Regions from separate parts of the Homo sapiens genome. Here region 2 is linked to region 1. Evidence: fine-mapped expression QTL. A gene starts in region 1. The other region holds a variant in brackets. All regions are shown on one strand. Distances are between the middles of the regions. Region 1 holds the start of CRY2 (cryptochrome circadian regulator 2). Region 2 overlaps CRY2 (cryptochrome circadian regulator 2).

Evidence for each region. PIP is the estimated chance that this variant, and not a neighbour inherited with it, causes the effect. A credible set is the group of variants that fine-mapping cannot tell apart.
Region 2: its variant is the best candidate, but not a certain one, in a credible set for the expression of CRY2 in whole blood (TOPMed, PIP 0.57).

What each region holds. Positions count from the first base shown.
Region 1 is chr11:45,846,198-45,848,983 of GRCh38, reverse strand. It overlaps CRY2 (cryptochrome circadian regulator 2), which reads right to left and starts at 1,509. Exons shown (of 12, transcript NM_021117.5): 1 at 1,279-1,509. The coding sequence starts at 1,493. RefSeq lists a silencer at 739-848 and enhancers at 797-1,318, 1,249-1,488, 1,849-1,898, 1,949-2,058.
Region 2 is chr11:45,865,932-45,868,717 of GRCh38, reverse strand. CRY2 (cryptochrome circadian regulator 2) reads right to left here. Exons shown (of 12, transcript NM_021117.5): 6 at 966-1,106. Among named protein-coding and RNA genes, the nearest start is that of MAPK8IP1, 18 kb to the left of the region's middle. RefSeq lists an enhancer at 2,717-2,786. The variant T/A (reference allele first, on the strand shown) is at 1,147.

The DNA of each region.
Region 1 (2,786 bases):
GTCAAACCCAACCTCCTATCTGTAGAAAACTGGAGCAGAGACAGAGCAATAAGGCAGCCTGAAAACTGTGGGCAGGCTCTCCACAGGACTCCTTAGTTGTTCCTTCTGGGCAGGAGGGGACACTGAACAGGCCCACTGCTAGCAGCACTCACTCTCTTAGCAGGGCACACACCTTGGAGAGAAAAGAATGGTGTGCCGAGAGCCACGGTATCCTGGAAATAACCCTGTCCATCGATGCAACAAGGCCACAAGCAAACATTCCCCAGAACAATGCAAACAAACCGAGCGACTGCCACTAGGTGTTCTGAAGAGCGATGGGTACATTATGTCTCAAAACTCTTTAGTTTGAATACTGTTTACAGTGAAAATACACTAACGACCTGTTCATCTTTTTCCATGATCATGTCGACTCCATCTCCTGGGGGGTCATCAGAGGGGCCCTTGATATCATGGCTTTCCTGCTCCCTAACCTTACCACAACAGTTCATAAAAGTCTCATCTCTAATGGCTCTACTGTCCTCTAAAATCATGACAAGAGGATGACGGGGTGACACTTTGGATTCTTTTAAATTTTTCTATCGAGGTCAAAGCTCCAGAGCAGGGCTTAAAACATTTTGGAGAATCCCCTGGATTCTCTGGAGCTTTGAACATAAAGCGACTCCACCTGAAGACGCCTTTGGCTTCTTTATTTATAATATAGGGGAGAAGACCTTATTTAATGCTAAGCCAGGGTCACTTGACACCCCTAGAGGCAGGACGGTCTGGGTGCAGGGTAGCCAGGATGGGTGGTAGGGCGGATTCAAACGAGCCAGAGGCTTCGGAGTGATCTCCCCGAGCCCAGCAACGGGCTCTTGAAGAATGCGAGCAAAAACCCGTCCCGCCCTCACACTACGTTATCTCCCTTCCGCCCCTCCCTGAGTAGACCGTAAGAGCCCTAGACCAGGAGCCCCTGTTCTGCCACTCACTGGCTACAAGTCCTTGGGCAGGTCGACTTTGGGTCTCCAGGGCTCAAGGGTCTCATCTGTACAACGGGGATCATGATCTCCGTTCCACAGGCAGTTGTGAGGCTCAAAGGGGTAACAGTGCGAACGCGCTTTGTCAGAGGCTGAACCCTGGCCCACCGGCGCGTTAGGACCATGACGAATTACTTCCCCGGTCTCGGCTTCTCCCCTCTGGCCTTCCAGCCGTGGCGGGGTTGGGGGGATCGTGCTGTTCGCCGGTCACCCCAGGGTCAGGGTCCTGGCTGCGTCCCCGCCACCCAGCCCCGGGTCCCCTCACCTCCATCGGTTGATCCCGACTGAGGAGGAGGCCGCGAACCACGGGTCGAGAATGTAAACGCAGCGCACGCAGCGCGCCCCGCGCACGGCCGCCAGCAACGCCGGGTTGTCGTGGAGTCGCAGCCCTTTGCGGAACCAGTGCACCGAAGAGGCGCTGTCCGTGCCGGGCGCTGGCGCCGGGGCCACAGCTGCCGCCGTCGCCACAGTCGCCGCCATGACTGTCCAGACTGCTCCAGCCACCCCCGCTCCGCCCCGGTAGGCGACGTGGACCCCGCCCATAGCCCGCCCAGTGACCTATGACGCCGCAACTCCACCCTTAGTCCCCGCCCACAGGGCCCCAGAGCCCCTCTGCCATTGGCTGAGTGCCTTCCACCTGGCGATTGGCCCAGAGGCGCCGGAACAGGCCCGCCCCCTCACGTTCCTACCATGTGTGGGTCCGCCCGGGTGGAGCTGGCATGCGGACAAGTGACGCAGGCTGGGGCTGTCCGCAGGCTGGGGCTGTCCGCGGAGTGCCGGGAGTAGGCCAAGTCTCAAGGGACAGCGGATCTCTTACCCACGTCCTGTTCAGGGCCTGCTTCTAGAAGAAGCTGCCTGGGCTGGTAGGGGTTGCTGTGACTACAGCCAGTGACTTGCAAGACTGACAGCTGACCTTCCTATTATCACCAACATCGTCACCATCACCATCTACATCATTCTACTACAGCTGCCATTTATTAAGTGCACTTTATATGGCAAGAGACATGATCATCTCCTTACGTAGACGGTCTCATTTACTATTCTCAACTCAGCCCAGTTACATTCATTTAGCGAACCCCAGTGAAAAAGCTGCTGTTGTTTTCGTTTCACAGATGAAGAAAACGGAGGGTGCCGCAGGTTGAGTGACTTATTCAATATCATAAAGCTGCTAAGAGGATTTCACCCAGATTATTCTGATTTCGAAATTTCTGCTTTTATCCACGAAGCTATACTTCTCTTTGTGCGAAGATCCTTGGTAATTCCAAGTGGCAGAGTCTAAGGACGGGGAAGGAGTGCCCTAATATGCAGCAGTAGAGGATTTGGGAGTAAGGACTGGGAATGTGGGGGACTTGAATTGAGATAGTAATTATGCCATCAGATGAATTTATTTTCTTTTAGTCTGTTTAGTAGATCCAGTGTGTGCAAAGCACTGTACTGGATTCCGGGTAGGGTTCAGAGATGTGGAGGACACTGTCCCCATTCTTCTGGGACGCCAGGTGGAACCCTCTTGGGCTAAGACGGCTTAGTCAAGCTGCAGCTTTGGGGTTATCAGGTGGAAAACAGTCTGTTTCAACTTGACCCTAGGTTGAGCCCATGCTTGGAACCCTTCCTGGACCTGGGACAGAGTGATGAAAGCATTTAGTAATTTAGTCTGCAATTTAGTGGCATTAATTGGCACCACTCTCTAAACCAGTGTCACTGCAATCCTAGGCATTCTCTGTCATTTCCAGGGCTTTTCACGAGCTGTTCCAGCAGTCTAGATCACACTCCCTC
Region 2 (2,786 bases), 20 kb before region 1:
TGGCTGCAGTGAGCTGTGATCATACCACTGTACTCCAGCCTGGGTGACAGAATGAGATCCTGTCTCAAAAACAAACAAAAAAACAAATGTAGACACAACGGCTAGGCATGGTGGCTCACGGCTGTAATCCCAGCACTGTGGGAGGCCAAGGCAGGACAATTGCTTGTGCCCAGGAGTTCGAGACCAGCCTGGGCAACATAGCAAGACCCTATCTCTACAAAGAATGTAAAAAATTAGCTCTACTTGAGAGGCTGAGGCAGAGGGATTGCTTGAGCCCAGGAGTCTGAGGTTTCAGTGAGCTGTGATCAGGCCACACTACACTCTAGCCTGGGTAACACAGCTAGACTTTGTCTCTTAAATAAACAACAGAAACAAAAAACATAGGCACAAGATGAGGTGATCCCTCTGAATGCTGACTGTGTTGCCCTCTCTCCTTCTGGGGACAGTTAACACAGGCTTATTTGCTTCTTGTCTGTATAGCACAGCCCTGTGTGCAGCCCCTCCACACCACTCCCTCCATCACTGATGGGCAACTGCTGTTCCTGGACTCCCCTTTTGAATGCTGTGGACACAGCTCCAGAGCGGGCAGCTATGCTCTTCCACTTCAGACTGGCTCCAGCCTCACCCTCTCCATGCCTCTCACCCTGGGGACCTCGCCCCTGTCCACCAGCTGCCAGAGGATATGCCACCTCTAGGGTCACACCTGAGGCCTGCTTTTCTGCCTGTCCTTCTGCTCTACATGATGGTCTGGGCTTCATTCTGGTGGGCAGTTCACTCTGTGCTTGGCTCTGCCCTCTTGGATATTGAGTCTTCTCTCCTCCTCCGGACTATCTGCACACACTTAGGCCCTTCCAGGGGCCATAGCCCAACCCCCACCCACCAGTGCCTTTTTTAGGGTGACTGACAAGCCCAAAAGGCCTGGCTGCAGGCCTTAGGTGCAATGTGGGCAGGTATGTCCCCCTTACCTTTTTATACAGGTCCCACAGGCGGTAGTAGAAGAGGCGGCAGGAGAGACAACCAAAGCGCAGGTAGGGGCTGAGGCCTGTGGGGCTGGCCAGGAGGGAGTTGGCGTTCATTCGGGGTCTCTCATAGTTGGCAACCCAGGCCTACAGCAGAAAGAGAAGGTGGCAAAAGGAAAGGCTTGGA[T/A]GTAACAGAGGAAAAAATGGAGGCATTGGGTGGTTAAGGAATCTGCCTACGGTCACAGAACAGCCAGCCATGGAGCCATGGAACACTGTGCTTGTCCAGCCGATTTTGAGACGGAACCACCATCAGACCAAACAACGAGTCTATGTCATTCTCTGACTTGCTCTTTAATTTGTGGGGTGACTGTGAACACGTTGTTACTTCCCTCAGCTACGTATCTATTAAATAAGAACAAAATTTCCAATCTTCTGTGGATTAAAATGAGATATGAAAGAATTCTGAAAGCACTGAATGAACTCTCTAATTATACAGCAGGAAACAAGGCTTCTATGTTACAGAAAAGAATATCTCAGTCCCTTCTCTAGTCACTAGCGGCCCTGAGGTTGTATCACAGACACCAGGGACTTCGCATTATTGTTCAACAGCAGCTGGGGAAGGAGGAAACTTCCAATCCATTCCTGGGGACCAATGGAATCATTCATTTCTGGGGCCATGTGTCATATAACATTACTGGTCATGTTTTTATCATCACTGGTTGCTGGCATAGGACTTTACTTTCCTGACTTGCTGTTCCATGCAGTCTCTCACGACTTTTTTTATTTATTTTTTTTTCTTTTTTGAGACAGAGTTTTGCTCTTGTCACCCAGGCTGGAGTGCAGTGGCGTGATCTCGGCTCACCGCAACCTCCACCTCCCGGGTTCAAGGGATTCTCCTGATCGCCCACCTTGGCCTCCCAAAGTGCTGGGATTATAGGTGTGAGCCACTGTGCCCGGCCTATTTCCACTTTCTTAACTCCCAACATCCTCTCCTCCTCTCCATGATACTGTTTCACAACCTTGACTCTCTTCAGCCTCCTGAGTAGCTGGGATTATAGGCACCTGCCACCACACCTGGCTAATTTTTGTATTTTTAGTAGACATGGGGTTTCGCCATGTTGGCCAGGCTGGTCTCTAACTCCAAACCTCAGGTGACCACAAGGCTGGTTCCCACAAGAGTCTCCTGTGACTTCTGTGCCACTGAGTCCTGCAGGCACTTTCTGACCTTGTATTTTGGGATCTCTCAGCAGCGCTATACCTGCCAACTGTGCTGTCTTATCCTCTTGATTCCTTGGCCTCTGTGACTCCACATCTCCTGGTATCTCCCAGCTGCCTGGCGCTCTTGGTCTTTCATCAGCTCCACCTCCTCTGCCTCTCCCTTAAATGTGGGTACCCAGGGCTCAGCTCTAGGTTCTCTACTCAACTGTGTGCCTCAGCAAGCTCATCCAGGCCCATGGCTCCCAGTTCCACCCCTTTGCAGACAACCACCACATCCATAGCTCTAGCCCAGATTGCTCCACCCAGCTGCCTGCTAGAAACCTCTACTTGGCTGCCTCTCAGGCAGCTCAAGGGAGATGTGCCCTTTTCTTTTAACCCACCCTTCCATTGGCCTCCCTACCTCAGATAATACACTGCTAGCTACCTAGCTGCCCAAGGCACAATCCTAGCCATCACCTTTGTCCCCTCACCAAGTCCTGTCAATTCTACTGCCTAAATATTTCCCAAATCTGTCCTTTTCTTTCCATTCCCTGCTGCCACCAACCTGGTTCAGGCTAAGGTCATATCTAGACTGGACAACTGTGGCAGCCTCCTGACTGGCCTCCCTGC